Linked DNA regions of Homo sapiens: region 2 is linked to region 1. The links come from fine-mapping of genetic effects on gene expression. A gene starts in region 1. The other region holds a variant in brackets. All regions are shown on one strand. Distances are between the middles of the regions. Region 1 holds the start of TOR1B (torsin family 1 member B). Region 2 overlaps FNBP1 (formin binding protein 1).

The links. PIP is the estimated chance that this variant, and not a neighbour inherited with it, causes the effect.
Region 2: its variant is the best candidate, but not a certain one, in a credible set for the expression of TOR1B in aorta (GTEx, PIP 0.57).

The regions. Positions count from the first base shown.
Region 1 is chr9:129,800,134-129,805,503 of GRCh38, forward strand. It overlaps TOR1B (torsin family 1 member B), which reads left to right and starts at 3,051. Exons shown (of 5, transcript NM_014506.3): 1 at 3,051-3,278; 2 at 3,940-4,205. The coding sequence starts at 3,080. RefSeq lists silencers at 3,131-3,260, 3,321-3,440.
Region 2 is chr9:129,898,880-129,904,249 of GRCh38, forward strand. FNBP1 (formin binding protein 1) reads right to left here. Exons shown (of 17, transcript NM_015033.3): 13 at 3,990-4,122; 14 at 1,547-1,668; 15 at 1,086-1,222. Among named protein-coding and RNA genes, the nearest start is that of MIR6855, 32 kb to the left of the region's middle. RefSeq lists an enhancer at 1,784-1,903. The variant G/A (reference allele first, on the strand shown) is at 2,287.

The DNA of each region.
Region 1 (5,370 bases):
ACTTTGGGAGGCCGAGGCAGGCGGATCACTTGAGGTCAGGAGTTCCAGACCAGCCTGGCCAACACGGTGAAACTGCATCTCTACTAAATCTCTACTAAAACTACAAAAAGTAGGCCGAGCGCGGTGGCTACACCTGTAATCCCAGCACTTTGGGAGGCCGAGGTGGGCAGATCACGAGGTCAAGAGTTCGAGACCAGCCTGGCCAACATGGTGAAACCCCGTCTCTACTAAAAACAGATGGGCATGGTAGTGCACACCTGTAATCCCAGCTACTGGGGAGGCTGAGGCAGGAGAATGGCTTGAACCCAGGAGGCAGAGGTTGCAGTGAGCGGAGATCATGCCACTGCACTCCAGCCTGGGTGACAAAGCGAGACTCCATCTCAAAAAAAAAAAAAAAAAAAAAATAGCTGGGCATCGTGATGCACACGTGTAATCCCAGCTACTCGGAGGCTGAGGCAGGAGAATTGCTTGAACCTAAGAGGCAGAGGCTGCAGTGAGCTGAGATCATGCCACTGCACTCTGCACTCCAGCCTGGGCAACAGAGTGAGCTGCTGTCTCAAAAAAAAAAAAAGTTTAAGCCACTTCCCACGGCCAACTTCTATTCTTTTTTTTTTTCTTCTTTTTTTTGAGACGGAGTCTTGCTCTGTCGCCCAGGCTGGAATGCAGTGGCGCAATCTTGGCTCACTGCAACCTCTGCCTCCTGGGTTCAAGCCATTTTCCTGTCTCAGCCTCCCGAGTACCTGGGATTACAGGCGCGCACCACCACACCTGGCTAATTTTTGTATTTTTTGTAGAGACGGGATTTCACCATGTTGGCCAGGCTGGTCTCGAACTCCTGACCTCAGGTGACCTGCCTGCCTCGGCCTCCCAAAGTCCTGGGATTACAGGCATGAGCCAGTGCACCTGGCCCTTCCATTCATTCTTTAGATCGCAACTGAGATAGGGAGGAGAAGATCCCTCCCCACCCACAGGCCTCTGTGCATCCTGCATTACAGCCTTGGCCCACCCTGGACATAAGCTGCCTGCTTGCTCATCTGTCTCCCTGACTAGTTACCTGGACCACGGCAACAGCCTCTTCACTGGCTCTCTGCCTTCCATTTCTTGTGAACCCAGCAGCCAGAATGATCTCTGATCTGACCATGTTGCTTCCTGTGTAAAACCCTCTGTGGCTCCCTATTACCCCCCAGAACAGAGGCCAAACTCCTTACAACATTCGCAAGGACTTCACCTTCCAGTCTCTGCCTGATTCTTCATCCCTATCTCTCACCACCTTCCGCCATGTGGAATCCTTTCAGTTCTCCAAACTGACTGTTGTTTTCTGCCTAAAACACTCTACTCATTTTTTGCCTGGCCTAACTCCCTCAGTGCCCAGCTTAGACAAAAGCCTTCCCTGTACCACTGTCCGATACTTCTCTGCCCACTCAGCATTGAGTCTCACCCCTTTGTCGGCCTCCCCCATAGACCGTCAGCTCTGAGAGGGCAGGGGCCAACTCCGTCCCCTCCTCTGCTGTCGTTCCTGGCATCCAGCAAGGGGCCTGCCACCTAGCGTGCTGAATGAAAGAATGGACCTCGGGATTTCAGTGTGGAAGCCTGGGCAGGTCTGTCTTGGGGCCGCTGCATCCCCAGTGCTCAGTCTAGGGCGCAGCACGGAGAGTTCGCAACTGTTTCAGGAAGAAGGCAGGCGGGTGGGCCGACCCAAGAAACGCACATTATACCTCCGGCGAAGTGAAGGGAGGGATAACAAAGCAAAGCTTGAGGGCTCCGAGAAGCTCTGAAGAAAACAAATCCAGCCATAAGCCCACTCCTGTAACCCCAGGCTTTGGAAGACGGAGGCAGGTAGATCGCTTGAGGTCAGGAGTTCGAGACCAGCTTGGGCCACATGGCGAAACCCCGTCTCTACTAAAAACACAAAAGTTGGCTGGGCGTGTTGGCGGGCACCTATAATCCCAGCTACTCCAGCAGCTGAGATGGGAGAATCGCTTGAACCTGGGAGGAAGAGTTTGCAGCGAGCCGAGATCCTGCCACTGCGCTCCAGCCGGGGCGACAGAGCCAGACCCTGTCCCCAATATACATATCAGATAAGAAAAAAATATAAGAAAGTTTAAAAAAATTTTTTTTGGCTTTTTTTTGTTTTTTTTGAGACGGAGTCTCGCTCTGTCGTCCAGGCTGGAGTGCAGTGGCACGATCTCGGCTCACTGCAAGCTCCGCCTCCCAGGTTCACGCCATTCTCCTGCCTCAGCCTCCCGAGTAGCTGGGACTACAGGCGCCCGCCACCATGCCCGGCTGATTTTTTCTATTTTTCGTAGTGATGGGATTTCACTGTGTTAGCCAGGATGGTCTTGATCTCCTGACCTCGTGATCCGCCTGCCTCGGCCTCCCAAAGTGCTGGGATTACAGGCGTGAGCCGCCGCGCCCGGCCAGCCTTTTTTTTTTTTTTTGAGACAGTTTCGCTCTTGTCGCCCAGGCTGGAGTGCAGTGGCACGATCTCGGCTAACTGCAACCTCCGCCTCCTGGGTTCAAGAGATTCTCCTGCCTCAACCTCCCGAGTAGCTGGGATTACAGGCGCCCGCCACCACACCCATCTAATTTTTTGTATTTTTAGTAGAGACGGGGTTTCGCCACGTTGAGCAGGCTGGTCTCGAACTCCTGACATCAGGTGATCCGCCCGCTTCAGCTTCCCAAAGTGCTGGGATTACAGGCGTGAGCCACGGCGCCCGGCCAAAAAAAAAAAATTTTTTTTTTTTTTTTTAGATATTTTTTCACTCTTGTTGCCCAGGCTGGAGTGCAATGGCGTGATCTCGGCTCGGCCTCCCAAAGTCCTGGGATTACAGGCGTGAGCCACCGCGCCCGGCCCGAAAAAATTTTTTTAAAAGAAAAGGGAAACAAAACAGTCTCCTACACCTTCGGACCACTCCCAAGAACGATGGCACCGCCCTCCTCTCCGCCCCTCACCAACATGGCCGCCCCCAAGGGAGTGGGCGGGTCTGCGGGGCGGAAGTGACGCACGAGAGGAAGTCCGTCCTGCCGCTTGGCCGCGGGGCGCCTGGCTCAGTGGCTTCTGCGGGCTTCGAGGAGCGGGATGTTGCGGGCTGGGTGGCTCCGGGGCGCGGCGGCGCTGGCGCTGCTGCTGGCGGCCCGAGTGGTGGCGGCGTTCGAGCCCATCACCGTGGGCCTAGCCATCGGGGCCGCGTCGGCCATCACCGGCTACCTGTCCTACAATGACATCTACTGCCGCTTCGCCGAGTGCTGCCGCGAGGAGCGGCCGCTCAACGCTTCGGGTACGGCGCGCGCGCGAGCTGTGGGTCGGCGCTGCGGGGGGCGCGGGGGCGCGGGGGCGCGGAGGGACGGCCTCGTGGGCGCCTGGCACGGACCGGGCCCGTGGCATCTAGACGGCGGTGGTCCCAGCTGGGGTGGGCGGGGAGCGGATGGGGCGGCCCCGGAACCGTTCGCGGGAACGCAGAAGCGGTGCCTTCGCAAACAGTCTCCAGATCGTGGGGCTGCCCCAGCGCCTTTCTAAAGCTCCCGTTCCTTGGGATCACAGGTGGAAGAAACGGAAAGTAGGCGGGCGGCCCTTCTGCGCCCTGCCAACCCTATTAAGTAGTTTTCAGACGTGCTGCGTCGCCCAGAAAGCCCACATTTGGCCCCTGGTTTTCCTGCAGGTCAGCAAGGGTGGCTGGGATTAGCAAGCGCTCAGTCAAGCGATGGTTCATCTCTGAATGAATGAACATTTAGCTTCCTTATCAGACCCCGAAGCGTTAAGGACCTCCACATAATCTTGAAAGTGGCATCGTTTGACTGCCTCGGCCCTAGGGTGTGGCAGACACCCTGCTGTGTCCCTGGATAATCTGTGCTTCTTGCTTTGGCCAGCTAAGAAAGTGCTGCGTTGCTGATGCATTTTTAAGGTCTGTTTCTCTCTTTGTTCTGGGGCTGTTCTTGCAGCTCTCAAGCTGGATTTGGAGGAGAAGCTGTTTGGACAGCATCTAGCCACGGAAGTGATTTTCAAGGCGCTGACTGGCTTCAGGAACAACAAAAATCCCAAGAAACCACTGACCCTTTCCTTACACGGCTGGGCTGGCACAGGCAAGAATTTTGTCAGTCAAATTGTGGCTGAAAATCTTCACCCAAAAGGTCTGAAGAGTAACTTTGTCCACCTGTTTGTATCGACTCTGCACTTCCCTCATGAGCAGAAGATAAAACTGTACCAGGCAAGAGAACCCGCTATTATCTCGTCTGCAGGCCAGTCGGACTGGTCCGGGTGACCTGCTCACTAACTCTGGCCTCTGCTTCTCTTTCCTTTGTGTTGCTGTAGCCCCCGGCTCCACTGAGTTAAGGCACACTTAGTCCAGGTAGTTACAAAGCTCTCCTACAACATTTCTCTTACTTGGTTCCAAAACAGTCCAGTGGGGTAGGGGATGTTATTTCCATTAAAAGATGGGGAGCCAAGGGCCTGGCGCCGTGGCTCACGCCTGTAATCCCAGCATTTTGGGGAAGCCGAGGCGGGCGGATCATTTGAGGCCAGGAGTTTGAGACCAGCCTGGCCAACATGGTGAAACCCCATCTCTACCTAAAAGTACCAAAATTACCTGAGCACGGTGGCACGCACCTGTAATCCCAGCTACTTGGGAGGCTGAGGCAGGAGAATCGCTTGAACCTGGGTGGCAGAGGTTGCAGTGAGCTGAGATCGCGCCACCGTACTCGGTCTCAAAAAAAAAAAAAAAAAAAAGGCCTGGCACAGTGGCTCACGCCTGTAATCCCAGCACTTTCGGAGGCCGAGGGGGGCGGATCACGAGGTCAGGAGATGGAGACCATCCTGGCTAACACGGTGAGACCCCGTCTCTACTAAAAATACAAAAAATTAGCCGGGGATGGTGGCGGGCACCTGTTGTCCCAGCTACTCGGGAGGCTGAGGCAGGAGAATGGCCTGAACCCGGGAGGCGGAGCTTGCACTGAGCCGAGATCGCGCCACTGCACTCCAGCCTGGGCGACACAGTGAGACTCTGTCTCAGAAAAAAAAAAAAAAAAGAGAGATGTAGTCAGGGCCAGGTGCAGTGGCTCACGCCTGTAATCCCAGCACTTTGGGATCCGCCAAGGCGGGCGGATCACCTGAGGTCGGGAGTTCGAGACCAGCCTGACCAACATGGAGAAACCCCGTCTCTACTGAAAATACAAAATTAGCCGGGCGTGATGGCGTGCGCCTGTAATTCAAGCTACTTGGGAGGCTGAGGTTGCAGTCAGCTGAGAATGGGCCACTGCACCCCAGCCTGGGCAACAGAATGAGACTCTGTCTCAAAAAAAAAGAAAAAAAAAAAAGATGGAGCCTGGAGCCCAGAGGCAAGGTGACTTACTCCTACAATCTTTGTAGCAGAACAG
Region 2 (5,370 bases), 99 kb after region 1:
AGACAGGAGCGCTATAGATACTAGATATTAAATGAATGGATGAAATGATCATCCTCCCTATCGTCTGCTGCAGTGAAGCAAGCTCTCTGGAAGCTGTTAAGTTATACGAACCAAAAGTCAAAATATACAACCAAATAATAATCATACCATGAGTAGGATAAAAGCATAGTAGAGAAGGATCTGGAAGGCTGCTGCTGCAGCTTTTTTTTTTTTTTTGAGACAGAGTCTCGTTCTGTCACCCAGGCTGGAGTACAGTGGCGCTATCTCAGCTCACTGCAACCTCCGCCTCCCGGGTTCAAGTGATTCTCGTGCCTCAGCCTCCCGAGCAGCTGGGATTACAGGCGCCTGCCAGCATGCCCAGCCAGTTTTTGTATTTTTAGTAGAGATGGGATTTCACCATGTTGGCGAGGCTGGTCTTGAACTCCTGGCCTCAAGTGACCTGCCCGCCTCAGCCTCCCAAAGTTCTAGGATTACAGGTGTGAGCCACCATGCCCGGCCAGATCTGGAAGGCTTCTAAAGAAAGTTCTGGTCACAGAAAGAGAAGAGTGTGGCTAGGCACAGTGGCTCACACCTGTGATCACAGCACTTTGGGAGGCTGAGGCAGGAGTACTGCTTGAATCCAGGAGTTCAACACCAGCCTGGGCAACATAGTGAGACCCTGTCTCTACTGAAAAGTACAAAAAGTACAAAAGTACAAAAATGAGCCGGACATGGTGGTGCTTGCCTGTAGTCCCAGCTACTCAGGAGGCTGAGGTTGGAGGATCACTTGAGCCCAGGAGGTCAAGGCTGCAGTGAGCCATGATTGCACCACTGCACTCTAACTTGGGCAAGAGAGCGAGACCCTGTATGAAAAAAAGGAAGGAAGGAAGGAAGGGAAGGAAGGGAAGGAAGGGAAGGGAGGGAAGGGAAGGGAAGGAAGGAAGGGGAAGGGGAAGGGGAAGGGGAAGGGAAGGTAGGAAGGAAGGAAGGAAGGACAAAGGAATAAAAATGATCAGAAGGAAGGAAGGAAGGAAAAGTGAAAGAAGAGTAACTCAGATATTATGGTTTATAAAAGGCAGGGGAATCCAGCAGACATGAAATGTCACCTTCAAATGTGTAGAGAGCTTTGCACGTCCCTATGGCAGGGAGGGGCTCCTCATCATCAAACTCGTCGTCAAAATCCGTGGCCAGCACCTTCATCTCACTCTCCTGACTCTGCTCCTCTGTGTAACTGCCATCTGGGCTGCTCAAGAAAGGAAAACACAAAGCAACTAAAGCGACTGACCCCAGGGAGGACTCAGATTGAGTCCCTGCGACTGGAGAGCACTTGCAACCCCGCCCCTCAGCGAGTGCTGTAACTGAGGCCATGGTAAATCATCGCACGCTCAGATCACCCATCCCATGTGGAATTATAAATCTGCATCATGGAAAAAGTGACAGGTCAATCGCAACAGACATTTTGGCATTGAACAAGTGCCTTATGGTCATTCCAGATTCCAAAATTTAGAAATAAATACAAAGCCAACAGGCTCCCTTGCCAGAGGCAGGCGCTGTGCAGATACTGTACCTCTCACGGTCCTGGGCGCAGTTGTTGACTGTGGGTGGGTTCTGGCTGTCGTACAGTCCGCTCTGCCGGCGCGCCTGCTCGCTGCGTGCTGGGAGCCGGCCTTCAACCTCAGCCAGCCAGGCCTGGAGACAAAAGCAATGAGAGACTCCAACCTAAGGCCATCTGAGGGTCAGCCCAGAGTGTCCTAAGGTCCCAAAGGCCATCTGAGGGCCAGCCCGGAGCATCCTAAGGTCCCAAACTCAGGGGCTACTCTTGGCCATTTAACCCAATGTGAGGAAGTCCACGTGGGGGCAGAATGGCCACGTTTTCTGCCTTCGACTGTTCAAATGTACTGAAGGACGGTTGCTTCCATTTCACCCGAAGTTGGAGACATAGAAACAAACTCATATTTATGTGGTTGCCCACGATGGGGCAGAAAGCACACTGGACTATGCTATCCCCTTGGGCTTTTAAGCAGCAGTGCAGTCTTGGATAAGTCACTTCTAGTTCCTTCTTGACCATGAGGTCGCCCTGTGATACCTGAAGGTACAGCCATGCTTAAAGCAGTGACTCAGTTTGAAAGCCACACTTCCTATTTTTTAGGAGTGTAACTTTTTTTTTTGATAGAAATGAAACTTGTACTTAAAAATTAAAGTAGATAAAATGACCTTCAGCATTTGAAACAGTATAAACAAGTCAAAGGAATAAAAATGACGAGAAGGCCGGGCGCGGTGGCCACACCTGTAATCCCAGCACTTTGG[G/A]AGGCCGAGGTGGGTGAATCACTTCAGGTTGGGAGTTTCAGACCAGCCTGGCCAACATGGTGAAACGCTGTCTCTACTAAGAGTACAAAAATTAGCTGGGGGTGGTGGTGAGCGCCTGTAATCCCAGCACTTTGGGAGAGGTGGGCAGATCACCTGAGGTCAGGAGTTCGAGACCAGCCTGGCCAACATGGTGAAACTCCATCTCCATTAAAAATACAAAAATTAGCTGGGCATGGTGGCACATGCCTGTAGTCCCAGCTACTCGGGAGGCTGAGGCACGAGAATCACTGGAACTCAGGAGGTGGAGGTTACAGTGAGTCGAGACTGCACCACTGCACTCCAGCTTGGGTGACAGAGCGAGACTCTGTCTCAAAAAAAAGAATAATAATAAGAAAAGGACCGTTCTAAGTTCTAAATGCTCAAATGAACATTAATGATGGATTCTGAAAAGAATGGAAAAAGCTGGCCAGGTGTGGTGGCTCACGCCTGTAATCCCAGCACTTTGGGAAGCCAAGGTGGGTGGAGCATCTGAGGTCAGGAGTTCGAGACCAGCCTGGCCAACATGGCAAAACCCTGTCTCTACCAAAAATACAAAAAGTAGCCGGGTGTGGTGGTACACACCTGTAGTCCCAGCTACTCAGGAGGCTGAGGCAGGAGAATCACTTGAACCTGGGAAGTGGAGGTCACACTGAGGTGAGATCACGCTACTACACTCCAGCCTGGGCAACAGGGCGAGACTTCATCTCAAAAAAAAGAATGAAAAAAGCCATAGTTGACCCTTCATTGCTGGAAACAATCTATTCTGACTGGTAGAATCGGTTGCTAATGTATTTTTCCATGCTCTGTAGTCTTTAAACGTGGTAGGGAGAGTGGGTTCAGGAGGCTTTTGTTGACAGCTTTTGAGTGCTCCTCTCCCTCCCTCAAGCTTTGATTATTTATGTTTCCTGCTTGTTTCTCCTTTGTGTTTGCTGCTGGTTCTCACACACACCCTTTCCATAATGGGCCTGCTGAGAGAACAATTGTATATTTCAGGGGATTTTTTTCATTGCTTCTTTGATTCACTGGGATAACGGATCGCTCTATACTCCCAATTTTATTACCATGAGATGAAGCAGAATAACTTAAAGTACAAAAAATACTGGCCAGGCACAGTGGCTCACAGTGGCTCACAGCTGTAATCCCAGCACTCTGGGAGGCCAAGGTGGGAGGATGGCTTAAGGCCAGGAGTTCAAGACCAGTCTGTGCAACAGAGCAAGACCTCAACTCTAAAACAAATAAAAAATTGAAAAATAAAAGTTAGCCAGGTATGGTGGCATGTGCCTGTAATCCCAGCTCCTCAAAGGCTGAGCCAAGGAGATCAAGGCTGCAGTGAGCTACAAGCATGCCACTGTACTCCAGCCTGGGCAACAAAGCAAAATCCTGTCTCTAAAATTAAAAAACAACCCCGCCAACCCCGCACCGTATACAGATACAACATTAAACATTGTCAGGTTTTACAGCCACGATTAAGATAGGCTATGATGAGTAGGAGAATGTTCAACGGCGAAGAGTGTATTTTTCCTTTGACCATAACTCCTGAAACAGCCTGCCATTCCCACTGTGTACCTCCCAGTGAGAGGATCGTCAGGGCCCCACACCATTCTACACCGAGGAACACCTGTTCTTCGTTTCCAACAAAGCTTTCCACAACAGAAGTTTCATACCTCAAATTTCTGGGTCTCTACTCGCAGTTTCTCTATATTTTGGCTGACTTCTGCTAATTTGTGATCCAAACTGGCTGGGTCTCCCATCTGAGGATTCTTTAGGTAGACATCTTTCATTTTTGTTATGGCATCTCTGAAAGAAAGAACGAGTAGAATGCTGTAAAGGTTACTCCATTTTTTTTTTAGACAGTTTCACTCTTGTCACCCAGGCTGGAGTGCAATGGTGCGATCTCGGCTCACTGCAACGATCTTGGCTCACTGCAACCTTCACCTCCAGGGTTCAAGCAATTCTGCTGCCTCAGCCTCCAGAATAGCTGGGATTACAGGTGCATGCCACCACACCCACCTAATTTTTGTATTTTTAGTAGAGATGGGGTTTTGCCACGTTGGCCAGGCTGGTCTTGAACTCCTGACCTTAGGTGATCTGCCTGCCTCAGCCTCCTAAAGTGCTGGGATTATAGGCGTGAGCTACCGCACCACCCGGCAAAGGTTACTCTTATCAGCCAATATTCTACCACTTTGAAAGCCATATGAATGGAAACGTGGGAAGATTAGAGTATGGATAAGGGACTATTGGGCCAGCTTCCATTCTGGAAATTCTCTATAGGAATTCTGCTACCAATGGCTATAAATAAAGAAGCTGATTTTTCAATTTCAGTTCTCTTCTCTAATGGTTATCTCCTTATTGTCCCCAATAACTGAGAAGCATAAATTAATCCTGCCCTTCCCTTTGCCACACAGATAAAATAAATAAATAAATAAAAGCCAATACTTTAAAAATTTTTAATTAATTAATTTATTTTTGAGACCAGGTTATGAGACTGGCTAATTTTTGTATTTTTGGTAGAGACTGCGTTTTGCCATGTTGCCCAGGCTGGTCTTGAACTCCTGGCCTCAAGCAATCCACCTGCCTCGGCCTCCCAAAGTGCTGGGATTACAGGCATGAGCCACCGAATCTGGCTTCAAAACCCAAGTATTTCCAACATGGTGAAACCCCGTCTCTACTAAAATTACAAAAATTAGCCAGGCGTGATGGCATGTCCCCTTAATCCCAGCTACTTGGGAGGCTTAGGCAGGAGAATCACTTGAACCCAGGAGGTGGAGGTTGCAGTGAGCCGAGATCACGCCACTGCACTCCAGCCTGGGCGACAGAGCAAGACTCCATCTCAAACAAAACAAAACAAACAAACAAAAACCCCCAAATATTTCCACGTGTGCATTCTTCATGCAAACCAAAGCTACAGCTGGCATCCTGGGTCTCACGGGCTGCATGTGCTCACCTGACGAAGAAGCACAGTCAATTGCTTTGGAAATGTTAACACACACCCATTTCCACTGTTAAGAAACTGAATCCATAGTTGGTATCCACGACAGGTAAGTG